Linked DNA regions of Homo sapiens: regions 1 and 2 are each reported to be linked to region 3. The links are microRNA targets in miRTarBase. Many come from high-throughput screens and were not tested one by one. Region 3 holds a microRNA gene; each other region holds the end of a gene's coding sequence.

The links. Region 3 holds the annotated microRNA hsa-miR-921 (CUAGUGAGGGACAGAACCAGGAUUC, at 3,225-3,249, shown strand). A microRNA usually pairs through its seed, bases 2 to 8, with sites in the 3' UTR of a target mRNA and lowers its output. Matches are read on the target gene's strand: a 7mer-m8 pairs with bases 2 to 8, a 7mer-A1 pairs with bases 2 to 7 and ends in A, and an 8mer does both.
Region 1: the mRNA of SLC6A8 is a reported target of hsa-miR-921. Seed matches in the 3' UTR shown: 8mer at 650-657.
Region 2: miRTarBase lists UBE2B as a target of hsa-miR-921. The part of its 3' UTR that is shown has no 7-base or 8-base seed match.

What each region holds. Positions count from the first base shown.
Region 1 is chrX:153,694,708-153,701,824 of GRCh38, forward strand. It overlaps SLC6A8 (solute carrier family 6 member 8), which reads left to right. Exons shown (of 13, transcript NM_005629.4): 12 at 12-182; 13 at 367-1,881. The coding sequence ends at 507. BCAP31 (B cell receptor associated protein 31) reads right to left here. Exons shown (of 8, transcript NM_001256447.2): 8 at 5,785-6,268. The coding sequence ends at 6,230. Among named protein-coding and RNA genes, the nearest start is that of SLC6A8, 10 kb to the left of the region's middle.
Region 2 is chr5:134,389,080-134,396,196 of GRCh38, reverse strand. It overlaps UBE2B (ubiquitin conjugating enzyme E2 B), which reads right to left. Exons shown (of 6, transcript NM_003337.4): 6 at 4,089-5,972. The coding sequence ends at 5,844. Among named protein-coding and RNA genes, the nearest start is that of CDKN2AIPNL, 19 kb to the left of the region's middle.
Region 3 is chr1:166,150,903-166,158,021 of GRCh38, reverse strand. MIR921 (microRNA 921) reads left to right here and starts at 3,224; the gene lies at 3,224-3,279. All of the region lies in intron 1 of FAM78B (family with sequence similarity 78 member B), which reads left to right.

The sequences.
Region 1 (7,117 bases), not on the chromosome of region 3:
CTGGTCCGTAGGGCATCTTCATCTTCAACGTTGTGTACTACGAGCCGCTGGTCTACAACAACACCTACGTGTACCCGTGGTGGGGTGAGGCCATGGGCTGGGCCTTCGCCCTGTCCTCCATGCTGTGCGTGCCGCTGCACCTCCTGGGCTGCCTCCTCAGGGCCAAGGGCACCATGGCTGAGGTAAGGCTCCCGCCCGGCCCGCCCTCCCCTCCCCTGCTGTGAACATTCAACCCAGCCTGCTTCCTAGCCAGGGAGTGGCCCCGACTAGGGTGGCAGGCAGTGGGAACCGGAGAGAGGCAGAGGAAGTCACCGTGGGGACGAGCAGGTGACCCTGGGGGCTTCAGCATGTCCTCCTCTCCTGCAGCGCTGGCAGCACCTGACCCAGCCCATCTGGGGCCTCCACCACTTGGAGTACCGAGCTCAGGACGCAGATGTCAGGGGCCTGACCACCCTGACCCCAGTGTCCGAGAGCAGCAAGGTCGTCGTGGTGGAGAGTGTCATGTGACAACTCAGCTCACATCACCAGCTCACCTCTGGTAGCCATAGCAGCCCCTGCTTCAGCCCCACCGCACCCCTCCAGGGGGCCTGCCTTTCCCTGACACTTTTGGGGTCTGCCTGGGGGAGGAGGGGAGAAAGCACCATGAGTGCTCACTAAAACAACTTTTTCCATTTTTAATAAAACGCCAAAAATATCACAACCCACCAAAAATAGATGCCTCTCCCCCTCCAGCCCTAGCCGAGCTGGTCCTAGGCCCCGCCTAGTGCCCCACCCCCACCCACAGTGCTGCACTCCTCCTGCCCCTGCCACGCCCACCCCCTGCCCACCTCTCCAGGCTCTGCTCTGCAGCACACCCGTGGGTGACCCCTCACCCCAGAAGCAGCAGTGGCAGCTTGGGAAATGTGAGGAAGGGAAGGAGGGAGAGACGGGAGGGAGGAGAGAGAGGAGAAGGGAGGCAGGGGAGGGGCAGCAGAACCAAGGCAAATATTTCAGCTGGGCTATACCCCTCTCCCCATCCCTGTTATAGAAGCTTAGAGAGCCAGCCAGCAATGGAACCTTCTGGTTCCTGCGCCAATCGCCACCAGTATCAATTGTGTGAGCTTGGGTGCGAGTGCACGCGTGCGTGAGTACGGAGAGTATATATAGATCTCTATCTCTTAGCAAAGGTGAATGCCAGATGTAAATGGCGCCTCTGGGCAAAGGAGGCTTGTATTTTGCACATTTTATAAAAACTTGAGAGAATGAGATTTCTGCTTGTATATTTCTAAAAAGAGGAAGGAGCCCAAACCATCCTCTCCTTACCACTCCCATCCCTGTGAGCCCTACCTTACCCCTCTGCCCCTAGCCAAGGAGTGTGAATTTATAGATCTAACTTTCATAGGCAAAACAAAAGCTTCGAGCTGTTGCGTGTGTGAGTCTGTTGTGTGGATGTGCGTGTGTGGTCCCCAGCCCCAGACTGGATTGGAAAAGTGCATGGTGGGGGCCTCGGGGCTGTCCCCACGCTGTCCCTTTGCCACAAGTCTGTGGGGCAAGAGGCTGCAATATTCCGTCCTGGGTGTCTGGGCTGCTAACCTGGCCTGCTCAGGCTTCCCACCCTGTGCGGGGCACACCCCCAGGAAGGGACCCTGGACACGGCTCCCACGTCCAGGCTTAAGGTGGATGCACTTCCCGCACCTCCAGTCTTCTGTGTAGCAGCTTTAACCCACGTTTGTCTGTCACGTCCAGTCCCGAGACGGCTGAGTGACCCCAAGAAAGGCTTCCCCGACACCCAGACAGAGGCTGCAGGGCTGGGGCTGGGTGAGGGTGGCGGGCCTGCGGGGACATTCTACTGTGCTAAAAAGCCACTGCAGACATAGCAATAAAAACATGTCATTTTCCAAAGCAGGCTCCTGCTTCCGCCTCTGCTGCTCTAAGGAAGGGGTCGGGGTACAGGAGGCAGGGGGAACCTCCTCCAGCTGGAGCTGCTGCCGTGAGCAAGGCTCTGCTCTGGAGGCCTCTGCGGCCGGCACCCTTCTGGGGACTGGGAAGGGGGCAGGGAAGGCAGCAGCCCAGGGGAAGGCCTTGTCCCCCTGGAGCCGAGGCAGTTGGGGAGAGCAGGACGAGAGTGAGCTGGAGAGCAGCCACACCCGCGGGGAAGGGTGGGCGTAAAGCCATGGGTGCTGAAATTTTCAAAATGTTACCCCAAGAATTTGTCACTGAACAGGTGCCTTGTGTCACTTGGGCCAGGCTGGTAGCAGCAGAGGGGATAACTCTGCATCAGGGATCAATTTTGAAGGTGGAGCCAATAGGGGTTGTGCATGACCAGGATGCAGGGCTCAAAGAGGAGTTAAGGACAACAGATTTGGCCTGAGCAAGAGGAAAGATGGAGCTGCCAGGTCCTGCAATGGGGAGGCAAGGAGAGAATGGTCTGGAGTCAGCCTTGGGTGTGTCATGCAGGAAGTGTCATCCAAGTGGAGATGTCTAGTTGGCAGGTGGACACAGGAGTTCCAGAAAGTACTGGAGATGGAACTGTGCAAGTTCTTACCACATAGAGATGACACTGAAAGCCCTGAGCCTGAGTGAGCTCACAGGGACGCCGCAAGCCCCGGAACACAATGAGAGGGGCAGAGCGAAGACGTGGCAGTGATAGGGGAGGACGCCTGAGAGTTCCTGGTGGGGTCCTGCAACCTGAGCCAGTGAGGACCCCTCACAGGTCAGGGAGGAGCAGTGGCTGGCTCCATCTGTCCAGTGCTGCTGCTGGTGAAGGACAGTGACCTGCAAATGCTCACTGAGTCTGGCAAGGGTCACGGGGGCCTGGCGAGGGTGGCTTGCATGAGCGGGTGCGTGTGAAAGGCTGGGTGGTGTGCGACTGAGAAAAGGAGTGGCGGCAGCGCAGTGTCATCTGCAGACGAAGGGAGAGACAACAACGTAGTTCACCCAGACAAGGAAATATGAGCCAGCCTGGAAAGGGAAGGCATTCCAACACACGACACAACATGGCTGACCCTGGAGGGCATTTCTGTGAAATGAGCCATCATAAAGGGATACTTGCTATAGGGTTCTGCTCCTGTGAGAGAGACAGGGCCTTACATGAGAGGAGGGAGATCCACAGAGACAGAGGGCAAGGGTGGGTGCCAGGGGCTGGGGACAGGGTGGGGAGTGTTGAGTGGGGACAGAGTGTCAGTTTGAGAAAATAAATTCTAGAGGTGGATGGAAGTGGTGGCTGCGCAACACTGTGACTGCACTTAATGCCACTGAATTGCACATTTAACGATGGTGAAAATGGCTCATTACATATACACTGATGACACTATATATATGTATGATATATATGCGTTTTACCATGAGAAGAGGTGGAGAGGAATTGGAGACACTGAGTACAGACAGGTCCTTCAACGGGCGGGACCCCGTGCACAAGATGAGCATGTGGCACCCCACCCTCAAAGGGCTGGGCACCATGGCAGGGCACAGCAGGCAATGCAGTGGGCGGCTCAGGCAAGCACAGAGAGCATCAGAGATTGGAGCCTGTGAAGGGGGAGCAGGTGACCCCTCAGAGCAAAGTGACAGCTTGGGCTGCTCCCTTTGCGTCCTGCCCAGGACTGCTATCGTGCTATGGGAGAACCCCCAGAGGCCCTGCTCCTCAGCAGGCAGCACCCCCTATGGAGGGGCTTTACCCCTAAACTTCTGGAGCCAGGGGAGGGACCTGGCTTGGAATACGGCCAACCAAGAGCCTGGGTGAGAAATACACGGACCAGACAGGGAGCAGAGAAAGGAGTGGCAGTGCAGTCCCACCCTAGCTCAGCCAGGGGCTCTGGAGCCTGTCCTGCAGTCCCTGGCCCCCATCTCTTCAGCAACCGCTGTTTCCAGTTTTCTTTTTCTCCCTGAGAAGCCTGTCCTCTCACCATGCCTGCGCCTTCAAGAACCCCGCCTGCTGGCAGCTCCCACATCTCCGGCCTGGCCCTCCTTAGCTGCAAAGGTGCTTCCCAACATCAGCAAGACCTCTCCCCAGGGTGCCCCAGGCCCTCACACAGCCCCTGTCCCCAACCGACTCCAACTGTCCTGCAGCCCACAGTCACCCTCAGGACCCCTGAGCTCAGGCCAACTGCTTTATACACTGTCAGCCAAGTCTCTGCCTGGATGACAATCACCCTCTGCTAATTGTTCTCCGCACCTCCAGGCCAAATGCCCTCCAAGCCACCTCATGCACCACGATGACACTAAACACACAGAAAAAAGACATTGAAAAAAGGAAACTTCACAGAGGCCTGTCACTTAAAGAGGGTCCTGAAATAGAGACACCATTTCCTCAGGACTTAGCTCCTGCATCAGGGGTTAGGACACAGAGATCAACAAGCAGCAGGCTTTGCCCTCAAGCAGCTCGCAGTCTAGTGGAAGATGGGTAAGAAAACAGATCAGGACGCCCACGGGTGCAGATGCCCTGGAACAGAAGCTGATCCAGGAAGGCGCGAGCCTGCAGGCCGCCCTCCAGTCTAGGCTGGGCAAGCACCTCAATTTTCATCTCTAAGAGCCTGTGCCCACACCCCCTGCCCCGTTGTTGTTCCATCACTCCACTAGAAAGGGCGCTCCAGAAGCTGGCCTCGTGCAGCTTTCTGTCTGCTGCTGGCCTAGGCAGAACAGCGGAAGAAGCCATCAGGGCTGGTGAGGGAAGCACCCGTTTGGACTTTAGCCTTTCAAAGCTCAGAGAAGGGTGAGCTCAGGGAGGTCCAAGGTAGCTGAGAGCACTTCCTGGAAAAGTGGGATCAGCCTTCGGCCTTGGCACAGCAACCAGAGGGTATCGCCCACGTGTCCCCTACTCCCTCAGACACCACCTCTCAGACCGCCTGGAAAGGGACAGAACTCGTCATGAGGCGGCTGTGCTCTGAGCACAAGGGAAGGGCGACAGGATGCTAGAGAAGGGAACCACTGGCCTGGGCCCGGACAGGGCAGGCAGAAGCGAGCATGCACAGCAGGCCGTCAGCTACCCTGCCAGCATCAACATCCTTCAGGGGTCCCCCCAGTTCCAGGAGACACACCTCTAACCTGCTCCCCTGACCCTTCCGCCCAGTCCTCATGCAGACACCAGGCATGGCAGAGGCCCTGCAGGGTGGAAGCACTGTGCTGCGGGCGGGGGCTGCCTTCCTCATGTGCTACTGGAGAGTAGCACAGTGCAGGGGCCTGGGCACTGGTGCCAGGCAGGAAGCCCCGGTACTGGCCTGGCTTGCTGTGGGCCTGGAAGACACAGCTCTGAGGGAGCCACGGGAGGGACACCCTGGAGCCAGCACAGCGCTCTGGTGGCAGGCACACACCCAGCACGTTCTCAGGGCCAAGGGCCCCAGCCCATTCCCAGCCCCTTTCTGCCTAGCTCTGCCCTGGGCCAGCTCCAGGTCACTGCCAAGGACAAGTCTCCTCTCCCAGCTGGCATTAGTCAGAGGTCATCCTGCAAACCTTCGGGGGGGGGGGCAGGGAGTGACTAGTGGCGTTCTGCCACGTTCTGTCTGTCCCAAATGTGACGAACAGGAACCCAGAGAAGGCAAGCGAGTCCTCTACCCGGAAGCCCCGCCGGTTTACTGAGCCTCCCAAGCTGCCCACACCCAGGGAGGCAGACAGGACACACACTCGGCGGGTGGCCCTGAAGCGAGGCCTGGCCCAGCCCGGGGAGCAGGAGGACAGAGAGGGCAAGGCCTTCGAGAACAGGTGTGAGCCTGGCCTTCAGTGGGGGAAACAGGTTGAAGGGCTGTGGCCGCTTGGGGGCTCCAGGCAGGAGAGAAAGCAGAGCCCTCCCCACAGCTGCAGTCACACACCGCACCACGTACACACCATGACAACTTTTATTGCCCTCAAGAGAAACTCCAGTCCACCTGCTCCACCCACCCTCCTGCGGGACCAAAGAAAACACCCAGAGGGCAAAACAAAAAGGGGCTCAAACCAACAGGAAGTCAGCCCCACCGCAAGCCGGACTACAACTAACTCGTGCTCTCCACGCTCAGGCGTGGAAGCCAAGGCTGTGCCAGGCCTGGCCAGGCCAAGCAGGATGACAGCAAACGCATTCTGAACGTGTAGCAATCAGGTCCCCTGTAATGTGCTTGGAGAGTGTGGACAAGGGCCGAGATGACGAGCTATGAGCTGTGGAAGGGAATGGGGGAAGCAGAAGGGCACAAACAGAAGTACTGGAGGGAGAGGCCGGGCTCTCAGGAAGCAGCAGGCACGTGCCAGGTGGAAGCCAGCTGCAGGCAGGGGAGGAAGGAGGCCCTTACTCTTCCTTCTTGTCCATGGGACCATCTACTGCAGCCTGGAAAGGGACAGAAATCCCACAGCAGTAGGTTGGCCGGGTCCACTCCTCCCCTGCCACCTCCAGCCCCATGCCCCAGAGGTCCACCTCGGTTCCCCTCTCTCCTAACAACAGCTATTCAAGTGAACAAGGGGCCCCCTCCCCAGCTGCACCCAAAGGCCTGCCAGGGTGGGAGCGTCAGCCCTGGCCCACGCTCTAGGGAAAGCCCTGGACCTAACGCCAGCCAGGGAGGACTGCCAGGACCTCACTGGGGGCTGAGTCCTGGCTGCAGGGAACAGCAAGGCATCCAGTCCCCTTCAAGACCTGATCAGACCCTTCCCAACTCTGCACACCTTTGACAGGTGCCCTCGAAGCCCATCTGCCAAGCCTGCCCCATACAGAGGGCATGGGTGCCCCCTTTGAGGCTGGACCCTTCCTCCCCACCTGCTGTGGTGCCCAAACTTGGGCCACCAAGCACTGAGGCCAGCTGTCCAAAGTTAGGAGTATTTATGTGGCCCTCACTCCCAACGTCAAGACCGCCTGGGCTTCCAGATGCGGCCTGGTGCACCCAAGCTAGTCTGAGGACTCAGATCAGGCCTAGGGCAGCAGGTGATGGCCACAACTAGCGCCTGCTAGGGAAGGTGCCTTTTTGACACCTTGTGCCCTCACTTGCCCAGGGATCTTTGCCCTACGTCACTCCCCAGCACCCTAGGAAAGAAGGCCAGCAGTGGGTCCCAGAGTTTCACCTGCTTCTTTGTTCTTGACCAGGCCCCAAACCATGGCTGCGCCTGAGCACGAAGGTAGGAAGGCTCAGAGCCTAGTGAGCCAGTGCCACTCCTGAGGGCCGCCTTGGCAAGTGCCTACATCTGC
Region 2 (7,117 bases), not on the chromosome of region 3:
AAGAAGACCCAGCCCCAGTCAAAGAATTAATGTAGCAAGACCCCGTCTATACCAAAAAAAGAAAAAAGAACTGTGTAAGCACTAAGATAGGAACTTTTTCCTACAGATTAGTTTATCAAACTTGCCACCTCCAAGTCCTGGTATTGCCTTGGCTGGCTTGCAGAAGGTTCTTTGTCTTTATTCTAAAGGCGACTTTCCAGCTGATGTTTCAGGGAGTTTCCACCTCAAACCACAACCTTATGGCCCATGCAGGAATACTCCTATGACCAAAGATCTCTGCTACACAGCAAGGTTACCAGTTTAGCTTTTCTTTGCAGTGCTACTTCTCACCTGTAGCTGAAACTAGTAACATGGGCTGAAGTCTCTGGATTTCACCCTGATCTCTGCCCAGTATGGTCATTAGGCCAAGCAAAAGCATCTTTTTCTATAGGAAGGGAAAATATCCCTTAGATTTAAAATGAGGTTAACAGCTAAGCAACTTCCCGTTGTTTTCTTTGTACTAACATCAACACAAAAACATAACATTTCCAATTCAATCTTATACAATGACTTTATACAGGGGCCAGCCAAAGAACTTCAAACCTTTCTGTTTGATATTCTCTTTTTCAGGAGTGCTGCTAGTCCAGCACTCCTGTACTCGTGGGTTATGGTATTGGCAAAAGATCTTGTTTGTAAAGGTGGAAAGGAAGAGGGCAATATATCCCTTGGGCTTCAGAAATAAAGCAGCATAACCAACCCTTTGCTTTTTGAGATGGAGTCTTGCTCTGTCACCCAGGCTGGAGTGCAGTGGTGCAATCTCAGCTCACTGCAACCTCCGCCTCCAGGGTTCAAGCGATTCTCCTGCCTCAGCCTCCCGAGTAGCTGGGATTACAGGCGCCCGCCACCACGCCTGGCTAATTTTTTATTTTACTAGGGATGGGGTTTCGCCATGTTGCCCAGGCTGGTCTCCAACTCCTGACCTCTGGTGATCCACCCGCCTCGGCCTCCCAAAGTGCTAGGATTACAGGCATGAGCCACCGCACCCAGCCCCCTTTGCTCTTAAGGGGATCTGCCTCAAGTGCTTTTATGTTTGCATTTTGGCAGTCTTAAAGACACAGTAGAGAACAACTCTTGCATTCCAGAAGAATGACTAAATTGTTCAGGTTGATGGAACCCCAGGGGATCTTTTCAGAGACAGGCTTTGATTCCCTTTACAGGAGTTCCCAGCCCAGTGGCACTTTATGAATCTGTCTTCCAAGTAAGACTTCAGAGGAGCCAACCTCCCCTAAAAGACTACAGAAGGATCATACTTGTAACCAAGACTGTTACTATTATATGAAGACTTTCTCTAATTGGCTTTGCTTTCTCTAGGCAGAGCCCACTCTATTATATATTAGAGTCTTCTCAAATATATTAATCCACAAGTCACTGATGAACAAAAGCAACATGTGGCCAAGCTTTAGCATTTACTTCCCAAAAGATTTCATATGCAAGTTTCTCACACAAGTCTGAATCTTACATATGCCAAAGAGAACTCTGGAGCCCAAGTTCTTCCAAAGTTCTTGATTTCAGCCATCAAGGAACTAATGTTGAGCTGTGGAGCAGTCAGATAACCAACAGGGTTTGTAATGTGCACAGCTCATTCATCTTTTTGGCTCAACTAAAAATTCCTAGGCCATCCTGTGAACACAAGAAGCCCTGAAAGCTCAAGATATTTCTGACAAAATTGTTTTTAAAAAAAGCTGTAGTGATGGTGAGGAGAATTCACTGAAGGAAGAATGGCACACATTTAATTGTGTCTTCTTTGTTGAAACGATAAAGAAAAAGTCCTTTCAACAATAAAATTTAGTTTCTAATATCTTTGCTGTCATATGCTAGAATGACTGATGATAACTAATCTTTCCCCCATCTGGTAACAGTTCATTCCCCCCTAACTAGATGGGAACTAAAGTAATAGAGCTACCATCTTGGCATAAGGCCTCTGTCCTATGGATAATTTCATTTACCGCGAACAGCTTTCCAACTATTCACTTTTCTGTTTAAATACATGATTCTCACATAACTCAGATTCCACTTGGACTCTACATTGTTGAATGCAATGGAAAAGAACTGTCATAAACACCATCAAGACTCCAAAATTTGATCCCTACCTCTTAAAACCTGGGAGAATTGAAATATGAAACACCTTAGACATAACTCTGAAGTGTAATATGATCCTCAGGGTTATCTCTTAAAGAATACTAAATGAATAAACTAAGTAGGCAGTTAACTTTGTTTAATGAGCATTAAACAAACTGTTAATAATACCACACCTTTAATAACTTACTTCTCCGCTATCTTCCACCTACATGAGTGTGAATTTAGAGCTGTGGAGCAGTCAGATAACCAACAAGGTTTGTAATGGGCACAGCTCATTCATCTTTTTGGCTCAACTAAAAATTCCCAGGCCATTCTGTGAACACAAGAAACATGGAAAGTTATTCATATTAATGAAACTTGGTGTGGGGGGTGGGTGGAGGAGAGAAATCCTACAGACTCAAGGATATTTCCAGGAAGGGGAAAAATGTGGCTTATTGATAAGTCAGTCCTTTATATAGAAACCAGAAAATGTTCCTAAAGTCAGTGGAAAATGGTAGTCAAGAAAACCCTTTCAGCTGAGTGCAGTGGCTCATGCCTGTAATCCCAGTGCTTTGGGAGGCCGAGGCAGGATGATCAGTTGAGCTCAGGACTTTGAGACCAGCCTGGCCAACATAGTGAGACATTGTCTCTACAAAAGTAAAAAAATTAGCCAGGCATGGTGGCATGCATCTGTAGTCTCAGCTACTCAGGAGGTTGAGGTGGTAGGACCGCTTAAGCCTGGGAGGTTGAGACTGCAGTGAGCCGCCTGGAGCCACTGGACTCCAGCCTGGGAAACAGAGCAAGACCTTGTCTCGGAAAAAAAAGGAAACCTTTTCATTGGAGTAGACACAAGTCTGTATAAAACTAAATCAGTTAAAAGTATTTCCACAAATTTGGATGTTGAAGTTCTGCAGAATTTCTAAAACCAATCTCAACCTCTTAAAAGATAGCACATTTCTGGGTAAGACCACATAGGGTTCAAATCCCAGTTCTATGACTTACTGGCTGGTTGATCTTGAGCAAGTCACTTCATCTGTCTATCTGTGGCTAGTTTCATTATCATCTTTTTTTTTTTTTTTGAGCCAGAGTCTCACTCTTATTGCCTAGGCTGGAGTGCAGTGGTGAGGTCTCGGCTCACTGCAACCTCTGCCTCCCAGGTTCAAGTGGTTCGCCTGCCTCAGCCTCCCGAGTAGCTGGGATTACAGGCACCTGCCACCACGCCTGGCTAATTTTTGTATTATTAGTAGAGACGGGGGGTTTCACCATGTTGGCCAGGCTGGTCTTGAACTCCTGAACTCAGGTGATCCGCCCACCTCAGCCTGCCAAAGTGCTGGGATTACAGGCATGAGCCACCGTATTTGTGAATTTGAAATGAAATAATATATGTTAAAAGTGCTTAGAATAGTGCCTTTCACAGATTATTCTGTGCTGGGGTATTGTTACAGGGAATTGTATCACACATGCATTTAAACTTTTTAACATGAATCCATCAATATAACTTTGTACCAACATAAACATTTTAGTTCTAGCTTCTTGCCCTACCATACATTTATGAAACTGACCTAGAGTTTAAAGTAAACACTTTTTGTATGACTCAACCTTGTAAATCGAAGGTTTATATCTGGTACTTAACCAAAGAAATAGGAATCTGTTCCAAGGCTGCAGAAAAAAGTGAGGAGTTATGTATAGATTGAACCTTCTTAAGGATTTTCTCGAAAAGGAATGTGGATGCTATGAGTTTTATGCATATGTTGAATTTTGGAGTTAGAACTCACTGACCTCCCTGTAAAGTAACATGTAACTTCTTTATAATTATCTACCAATACTTGAAATTTTCCTGTTTTAAACTGGGAAAGGCAAAAACAGGTCAAGGATAAAAATGGATGTTGAAATAGTAACCAAATAGCATTTAATGAAATAAGAGGGCAGACCCTCATAGCTACTGTATATTTAATCTAGGAGTTACTGGAGTGAATGTCTATAGTTTGTTTTGGAGCTAAACTATAAAAGCACCACACAATTAAAGCATCTTTTTGGGAGCCACGATTCCAGTGAGTGAATTCCCATTTGTATCAAAGTTCCCTAAGATCATACACTTACCTCAGAATTTGCCAAGTAATAGCTTTTATTTTTAAAGACAGGGTATTGCTCTGTCACCCAGGCTGGAGTGCAATGGCATAATCACAGCTCACTGCAGCCTCAACCTCCTAGGCATAAGCTATTCTGCCACCTCAGCCTCCTAAGTAGCTGAGACTACAGGCAAGTGCCACTATGCCCAACTAATTTTTTAAAAAATTTAAAGTAGAGAAAAGTCTTATTATGTTGCCCTGGCTGGTCTCAAAGTCCTGGCCTCAAGTGATCCTCCCGCCTTTGCCTCCCAAAGTGCTGGGACTACAGGTGGGAGCCACCTGGCCCAGCCTATAAGCATTTATCCAATCAATGTTAAACGTTGCATAATGAATAGAAGCTGTAGATATTGCCATACTGTAATCCAATTTTATGGATATGAGAAGAAACTCTTGGGGTTACTAAAATAGCTGTTTTAACTACTAGAGAGACTACACAGGTGGTTCAACAGAATTTACTTGTATATTTTCCATTTTCTATACTATTTGAAGGCATAGGATAGTTTTGTATTAGCTTTCTACAATACTGTGTTTTAAATTTATCCAGTAAACTAAGATGCAGTACAACTTTTATACAACTCAGGAGATTAAAAAAAAAATCTCCACAAGAAGAAGCAACTCAGCAGGCCCTGGCATTAAAACATTTCCCAGAATAAACAGATATGCATTGCATTAAAGGTAATTTTCAAATATTTAAGTTACACCAAGATTTCCCTCCAATATGTGCCTTTCTCAAACCAATGCAACTAATTCATTGCTAATACTGGGGCATGAATTTTTGGCAAATGTTTATGGTTTTACTTTCTTCATTAATCAAAAAATTTTTTAAAGTGCTACCAAGCAGCAAAACAAGTCGCATCAGTTCTCTGCTCATGGCAGAAGTGCCAACTGTGAAATCGCAAAAGGTACAGTTTTAACAGTAAGTAATGCATGAAGAAACTGTAACAAATGGCCTAAATACAGAGTTGGACAGAGTCAAACCAGTTATGTCTAGAATTACTCAATTGAAACTAATAGAGGTACATTCAAAATAAAGTTGGAGATTATAATCGCTATTTAGAATCAAATTTGAAGACTTCCTTGATAAAATATAAGAATGTTCTTTTGAAATTGTAAATGAAACTATCAATAGATGGAGAGCTAGAGACTTATTAACCCCTCCTACACACATAAGGAAATAAGTGACAAAGTCTCTTGCACTGAAGTTATGTATTTTAACAGCTTTACATGTAATATTCATATATAAAAAACTTTAAGTGCTTTTCTCCAATTTAAAAATCTAAAGAATTCAAAAATAAGGCATTCAATATTTGAAAAAAGTACAGATTTACAAAATGTGTATATTCTGTCATGAAAACTCCACACCAACATTATACACTTGGAAAAAAATACAAACAGGATATATTACAAATTTATGCAGCAATAACTTAGTTCACACCATGCAATAAAAAGTACATTAATCAAGATACACAAGCTTTTGTAGGTTCTAAACTGAAGGACTTTTTTCTTTTTTTTCTGCAGAATCCTTAAAACCTGTGGCACTTAAAATTTGTTAGCCTTTCTAATGAGAGGTAAATTATACACAACAATGATGAAAAAGATTAACAGACCAGTTGTCTATTATGAATCATTCCAGCTTTGTTCAACAATGGCCGAAACTCTTTTCTCATATTCTCGTTTGTTTTCCTGATAAAGCTGTGCTGCCTGGCTATTGGCTGGACTGTTAGGATTCGGTTCATCCAGCAGAGACTAGGAGGAAAGAAAAGAAAAAACAGATTTGCATAGTTGTTCTTTATACCAACAGGGGTCAGATATGGAATATATTACAGAAAAGTTATACAAAACAACAAATTACTTCAGAGATTAACATGTCATATAATTTTGGGTCTAAATACTTTTAGAAATGATTTGATAAATACTATGGGGTTTCCTGCTGCTAAGGAACTTAAGCTTCTGAAATAAAGTTCTCAATTGCCTTAAGACCTATAATTTCAGCTGGGTACAGTGGCTTGTGCCTGTAATCCTAACACTTTGGGAGGCCAAGGCAGGAGGATCCCTTGAGCCCAGCAGTTCAAGCCCAGCCTGGGCAACATAGGGAGACCCTGTTTCTATTAAAAAAGAAAAAGAGGTCGGGTGTGGTGGCTCACGCCTGTAATCCCAGCACTGTGGGAGGCCGAGGCGGGCAGATCACCTGAGGTAGGGAGTTCGAGACCAGCCTGACCAACATGGAGAAAACCCCGTAATTTCTAAAAATACAAAATTAGCCGGGTGTGGTGGCGCATGCCCGTAATCCGCTACTCGGAAGGCTGAGGCAGGAGAATTGCTTGAACCCGGGAGGCAGAGGTTGCAGTGAGCTGAGATCGCGCCACTGTACTCCAGCCTGGGCAACAAGGGTGAAATTCCGTCTCAAAAAAAAAAAAAAGAAAAAAGAAAAGAAAAAAATACCTATAATTTGAAAGAAATCAGAAAAGAATATTCTTAAGCATATTGAGACGTTCTCATTAAACCAAGGAAATAAACAGCTTAATTTGGTTAAGATATCAATAATTCTCAGTAACCAACATTTTCCAAGGTTAAACTCTATTACTGCAGTTACTTTGCAAATGTCTTGACAGTAAATTTGGGAGATAAGTCTTATTTCCTTTAATCAACAAAACATATACATTTAGCAGGAAGAGAATGAGATAGGAAGGTTGAAAAACAACGCTTGTAAGATGACCAGAACTGGCCTGGTGCAGTAGCTCACGCCTGTAATCCCAACACTTTCGGAGGCTCAGACGGGCGGATCATGAGGTCAGATGGAGACCATCCTGGCTAACACTGTGAAACCCCATCTCTACTAAAAATACAAAAACTTAGCCAGGCGTGGTAGCATGTGCCTATAGTCCTAGCTA
Region 3 (7,119 bases):
CATGTGTGTGAACCTCCTTGCATTCCCCTTGAGAATGGCATTGGTGGTTAGCTGTAAGAGCCATATCTTTGTGAGGGGCCAGGAGTAAAGACAGCAGGGAATAAGCTCCTTTCATGCTGAGGAGCACATTCCTTGGGAGCAGGGGGACGACATCCTCAGTTCTCGGGCTGCAAGCTGGTTGGTCTGGGCTGTAGCTTTTAGCCGTGTGCCTACACCTTCAGGCCCTAATGGGCAGCCCTGGGCCCCAGCAGACAGTCACCCAGACTACCCAGGTACTGGATATGGATAGCTATTCATCCCTCAAACTCTCCGGGCAGTTGCTGTTCGGGTGGATGATTAGGAAGAGAAGGAGAACAAGGATTCCCATCTGGTGGTGGAAGGGACCCCTGGCTTTGTCATCAGCTCATTGGACATACCTCTGGCTCCCAAGAATTCCTGCACTGTTCCTTTTCTCGAGGCCCATGTGGACCCTGCTCCCTCATTAGGTTCTGGGGTACATGCCAGTTGGAACTGTTCACTGTGCCAGTGGAAGATTTAGCTGCTGGTTCCCCAGCGCAGGGTTCCAGTCAGAAGATCTGGGTCCCAGTGCCAGCTGCATGACCTTTGGCAGGTCCCTTAATAAGCCAGCATCTAGTTTGCCTGTACATAAATGGACAGTAATAAGATCTCCCCATCCTAATGCCATACGGATTAGGAATCAACACTTGTGATTTTTGTTATTACAGAGCATGCTCGTTATTATTGCTAGAGGATGACTGTGGATCAGCCTTAAGGAACAGGGAGGTTGTGGCTGTGGCCCTGCAACTTCCCTGGACAGAGAAGCATTCAGACTCTGGAGAGGGGTCTCTGGCATGTCAGCTATACAAACCTCCCCTACAAACCCACTCAAAGATAGAGGGGAGGAGAAAGGCTTGCTCTGTACATCTGGAGCCAGGGCTGTTTTCTGTTCAAACTCAGAGGAAGGCATTGGAGCCCCCCCCCCCCCTCCGCCGCCCCCTTGACGTCATGTCACTCAGAAGTCACCCTCCTTGTTCTCCTCTAAGCTGTAGACTTTGGGAAGCCTCCAGGACCCTGGCTGCTCCTAATCCCTAGGCATGATGCCTGCAGCCTAGCCACATCCTTATGGGGACTTCCTGTCCTATCCCTGAGCCCTTCTTTGGTAACAGTATCACTCAGGCTGGGGGAAGGAGCTACAGTTTGTCCAAGCCAAGGACTTGAGGGTGGGGTGATGCTGGAGCATGTGAGCCATGCTGTTCATGCTCAGGAAGGTTGTGCAATTTCCACCTTAGGGGGACAGTGAGACCAACACCTGAAATCATTTGTGTCCAAAGCTATTTTTAAGGTACTTTATTCTTTGCAGGTCCCTTTCATGATTTTTGTTTTCTTTATAAGGGGACCTCTCATAATTAACCTCACAATAATCATGAAACATGTAGGACAACAGTTATTCCTATTTCAGATAAGCAAGCTGAGGCCTAAGGAGATTAAATTATGTGCCCAAGGTCATCCTGGCAAGCACTGGTAGACTCAGGCCTGATGCTCAGGCATCCCACCTCCTCTCCCAGTGCCCTCCATACTGAGTCCATGATCAGCCAACCAAGAATGGGAGTCAGGGATGGGAGAGGTCATCCTCAGAGCCATGTGCATTGGGCACCTCTGGCTCAGACAGCATGTGGACACTTTTAAGGGCATCATTTATGATGTCTGAAGACAAGAGAGGGTAAACAGGACCACCTAAATGTCTTCAACAAGCGCAAAGAGAAATTTTCAGGCTGTCAGATTAAAACAAGATAAATAAGGCCATTTTGTTATTAAAACAAAATAAAGGATGGCACATCAACAGGGTCACTGTGCGAGGCCTGCCTCGCAAAGCCTCTGGCTGGCTCCTGCTCCTGGGGCCTGACCTTTCAGAGCTGGCTGGTGGGCCTGTGTCCGGCACAGGCTCTCAGAGGCTGTTAGAGGCCTGGCTAATGGGAAGCGGTAAATCGGCATCCGCAGTCAGCACTTTCTGCAGCATCCCGAAGGAGCAGGCAGAGGCTTCTGGGGCATGTGTGGCGGCAGGTACAGGCTTTGGCAAGTCCAAGAGCTGCCAGAAACAGGCAAATTAGATGTTGCTTTGCCCTCTGCATGGGGGCTCAGGCTGGGATATGTAGGGGAAGAGAGGCGTGAAGGGAATCAGACATGCCCGTTCTGTGAGAGCAGGATCTTACTTACCTTCTATTCCCTCTCCCGAGACCACACACGCTGAGCCTCCATTCCAAAATGGCAGTCCCCACACCTGAGCTGGGCAAATCAATTCAAGAATAGATTTTTTGTTATCACTTAATGATTTGAGAATCTGTTTCAAGCTTCCACGAACCATCTTCACTTTCTTTAGGAAGGATGAGTGATTTGTGCCACAAACTAACCCCCAACCTCCTGTTGAAGTTATTTTCTTGACGTTCAGAACCAAGGAGCCTGTCTTTTGCTAAGAAACCTGCACACACTGAGTGATGGGCAGCTATGTGCTCGTCTGTCTCCCCGTGAAACCATGAGCAACTTACTCAACTTGATGATGATAACAACTAGTGTGTGCCAGATGCTTTAGATGCACTGTCTGTAAAGTAGGTAGCACCATTATTTTCCTCATATTAGAGATGAAACGGAGGCCTACAGCGGTCGGATAACATGCCCAGCATTACTCAGCTAAGTAGTGCCAGAGCCAGATTTAGAAAGCAGGTCAAACTAATTCCTGTGACTCCTTATGATGTTGTACTGCCTCATAAGGGTTGAATGAATGAATGTCCAAATGAATGAATGATCAGGAAGTATTCAGGATATTGCTTGAGTGTTTGCTTTCGTCCTTGCTGAGGAGACTTGGGAAACAAAAGGTTTAAATCAAATTGGAAATGACTAGTCTCCTTGCCTCCCAGCTGCCTGGTTCACTCAGCTGCTCAGGATGTGATAGTAATGAAACCAGGGTCTTGGGATCAGACCCAGGGGACCATCCCAGCACCAGAGGCAGTCCTCTGTCCTTTCAGCTACCTCACAGGTGACTGTTACCAGCTACCAGTCACAGCAGGGTCTTGATTAAAGAGTAGAGAAATGGCCAGAAGAATGCAAGTGGTAGATCAACAGAATCATTTTTAACTTACAGGGTGTTAGGATGGTGCGGGAAATCATCTAGCTCATTTGCTTCTTTTACAGATGGGGACGCTGAAGCCCAGAAAAGGGCAGTGCCACAACTAGTGAGGGACAGAACCAGGATTCAGACTCAGGTCCATGGGCCTGGATCACTGGCTAATTCTGTGGGTCAGGGCTGGAGGCACCCAGCACACCTAGTCTTCAAAGCAGCAGTCAGTGGTCACCTCCCCCTGTTTTTTCATCACTGCCTGCCCCTGCCCCCCAGCCAGGTTTGCTGAGGGTCCAGGTCTTCAGGCAGAGATGGCCACCTGCCCAGGAAAGGAAAGTGCACAGGGTGCAGGAAGAATCCATCCCTTGGCAGCACAGAGAGGAACTCACATCAGCCCAAGGGATGTCTACACAGTTGCCAGGAGCAGAGAGTCCAGCCTGTTTTCAGTGTCTATATGCAGTGATTAGCAAGCAAGAAAGAAGAGGGTCTCCCCAGAGACACCTGTCACAGATGGCAGGAGATGGGAGGGCTTGGCAGCCCAAGGGAAGGGGAAAGTATGGAGAAATTGAGATTTAGCCGGGATTCCCAACAACCCAGAATCCCTTTCTTCCACCCCTCAATACCCCCCTTACCCTAGCCCTGGTGCTGATGGCATGCATGGCCCTCCTGGCCCCTACCCACACACAGGCAAGGTATCTTCCTAGCCCCTGGCAGCTCTAGAAGAAATAAGATCCAAGTAGCGTCAAAGATGACAGATTGTGAGGGGGCCAGGGGCCCTCCCCTGACAGCAGGGCTCAGCTGGGAGGCCTCTGTGGAGCAGAACAGATGGGAGAAGTCTGAGAGGGATATCCTAGCAGCCTGGAGACCCTGTCTCTGTTGTGGCTTTTAGTTGGTTTCAGTCAATTCTTTTGTCATTGTTTTGTTTTATTGAGGCATTTCAGCATAGGGGCATGATCAAATGGTGCTGTGTCTGCTCACCCTAAAGGAGGTGGGGTTGGGGAAGAATGGGAGGGAACAGGTCTAGGCAACACCCCATTTTGCTTTGCCCTTGTTGGGATCTAAGGGGGGTATAGAGGGAGGACTGCAGAGGGAGACGAGTATATACCTCCGAGCATCCTGCCATCACTGCCTGCCTGGCTTACTCTAAAGCTGTAGTTTCTGTACCACTCCACACTTCCTGTCATGAGGACTCTGGGAATCCAGGGCGATGTCATGTGGTCCACCTCCCCCTTACATAGTCCTGTTGCAGCCTGGCCCTCCTTCTCTAAGCTTGCACTGGGACCAGGCTTCTACCCTCCCTGGAGACCTGCGTAGAGGAGGAGGCATCCTCATGTTTCTTGGGCTATGTGGACCCTTCACTGTTGTCCTGCCTGCCTGGCATGTCCTGTTCCAAGTCCTATAACTCACAGGGCTCCTGCCTGTCTGATCGATTGGCCCTGCTGCCTGATTCTCAGTATTTGTTGCCAGGTTCCTGCCTGCCTTTGAACTACTTGTTCATCTTTGTGTCCATCCCAAGTTCTACCGGCTTGGTTTCTGACCCTCTGCTTGTCTTGGGATAGTCACTCTTTCAAGCTGCAGGGCTTTAGCCAGATGCCCTTCCCCAGACCCCTGGATCCCCCCACTTCTCATTGACTCCCTGACTTGTGCTCCCCCTCTCTCTCTGGAGAGATAAATATGGAAGGAGCCACAGCTGGAAGAGCAAAGCTGTTCTCCACCCTTGGAGCAGAACCATTCACCCTTCTCTTGGGAGCCCATGAGTCACTCTGTCTTCCACGTTGCCTCCAAGCCTGGCTGGGCGTCTACTTTCATCTCATGAGTGGGTTTCCAAAAACCATGGATGATCTTTATAAAGAAAATTACTTGTGATCTAAAGGGGCAACTCAGCTAGAGTTCTGGATGTCTGGTGAGGAAGCTGGGAACAGTTAAAACCAGAGTACCAGCTGGGCGCACTCACGCCTGTAATCCCAGCACTTTGGGAGGCCAAGGCAGGCAGATCATGAGGTCAAGAAATCGAGACCATCCTGGCCAACATGGTGAAACCTCGTCTGTACTAAAAATACAAAAATTAGCTGGGTGTGGTGGCGTGCACCTGTAGTTCCAGCTACTTGGGAGGCTGAGGCAGGAGAATCTCTTGAACCCAGGAGGTGGAGGTTGCAGTGAGCAGAGATCACGCCACTGCACTCCAGCCTGGTGACAGAGCGAGATTCCATCAATAAATAAATAAATAAATAAATAAATAAATAAATAAATAAATCCAGAGTACCAAGAACTTCCCCTGAGCATGTGGGGTTTGGAATCCAGGGAGAGGGCACAGGTTAAAGGGGGATTGATTCAACAAGTGTCCGGGGCCAGTTCATCCACAGCAAGTCTGCAGCAGAGAGGGAGTATGAAAGAAGCTTAAGCACATGGTTGTCCTCTGGGCAAGCATCTTAAAGGCCTGGATATCAAGAGTAGATCCTAAAATACGGAAAAGAGAACAATTAATGGGGTGCAGACAGGGCCAAGGGAAGCTATGGTGGGCCTAGTTTCTCACGACAAGACCAGACAAATTCTTGACCTTTGGTCCTGCCGCATCCCGCCAGCGTGGAACTGAAAGGCCCGGGCAAGGTTAGCAGCTGCTCCCATCCCTATCCCTGACACCTGAGAACAACAACCACCACGGGCTTCTCTGCTGCAAAGCTCCCTGGGGTAACATCTCCAGCTGGATGGCTGAGCAGATGGCTTTAGCTAGAAGATTCCAGAGAGGGGAGGAGCTAGGAACACTGAAGGGCCCTTTATAGCCTCGGTGGACATCCTCCTCTCTGGCCAGTGCCTGGGCTGCTGGGATTCTAAAATGTCTTTGAGAAAATTTGTCTTTTCAGAACCTGTATCTGACAGAGACTCTAGATAATCTGGGTACCTGTGGGGTTGCGTAATCACAATTGAAAAGTCTTTCAGAGATGGGACTGTTGTATAATTAGGCTGAGAGTTGGGCCCGGGGTAAAGTTAAGTACTGGTATGGATTTAGTGCTAATGGGCTCATTCCTTCTACTGGGCCGTCAAAGTTGAACAGTAGGGGAGAGGTAGCATTTGTCTACATGATAAAGTTTTTGCGGAAACCCTATCTGTTGAACTTGAACCTTGGGATCTGTACATAGTTACTTTTTCATGAAGCAGCTAATTCTCTTTAGCCGAATGGTTGAACAGTTGAGTGGGTCTGGCACTTGAAGCAGAGACATTTGGGTACAGCTCCTACTGAGGAGTATTTGTGAACACCTGGAAGCTAAGATGGTTTCTTGTCCACTTACATCTGGCCATGGTTTCTGTGGCTGTATCAATGACTTCAGATTGAGGGATCCTAGGCCAACAATTGGACAAACTCACTGCTGAGCCAAGAAAAGCAGGATGCTTCTGGATCAGAACCCAGGAATGTTTAGGGCTTTATTCTAAGAGGGAGAGTCTTCCTTGGATGCTGGGAGGGTTTTTTCAAGATTTACCTTCAACATCTGGTGCTTCCTGAAACGTCTGGTCATCAGAATTAGAATCTAGAATTATACCCTAGTACTTAACGACTTTCCACTAAAAGGAAAATCTTGGAATGTTTTCATGCCATCCTCAAAAAGCAAAAACATTGAAGAAATGTTCTATCAGAAATGCCCCTGGTTAAACTGAAGCAGAGTAACCAGAGAGAAAGAAGTGGACGAGACAGTCAGATTGTCTTCATTGAGACATTTCAAAAGCACAGGCCAATTTACAGGGTAGCATTGAACTCTTGAGCTATTACAAGTCTACGTGCATTTGTTTCCAGTCTCAAGTGTTCAAATTCTTCTCTGATGCCATCCTCTATAACCCAGCACAGAACTGAGGTGAATCTCTCTGCAAGCTCCTTGGCAAAAATCAACTTCTATACCAGATTAAAACCCCAGTTCTGGGTCATACCATCCAACTTCTAAACATTTCTGATTTACCTCTATTATATATTTTAATTTTTTTTATTTTTTAAATATAGGTAGAGACAAGTTCTCACT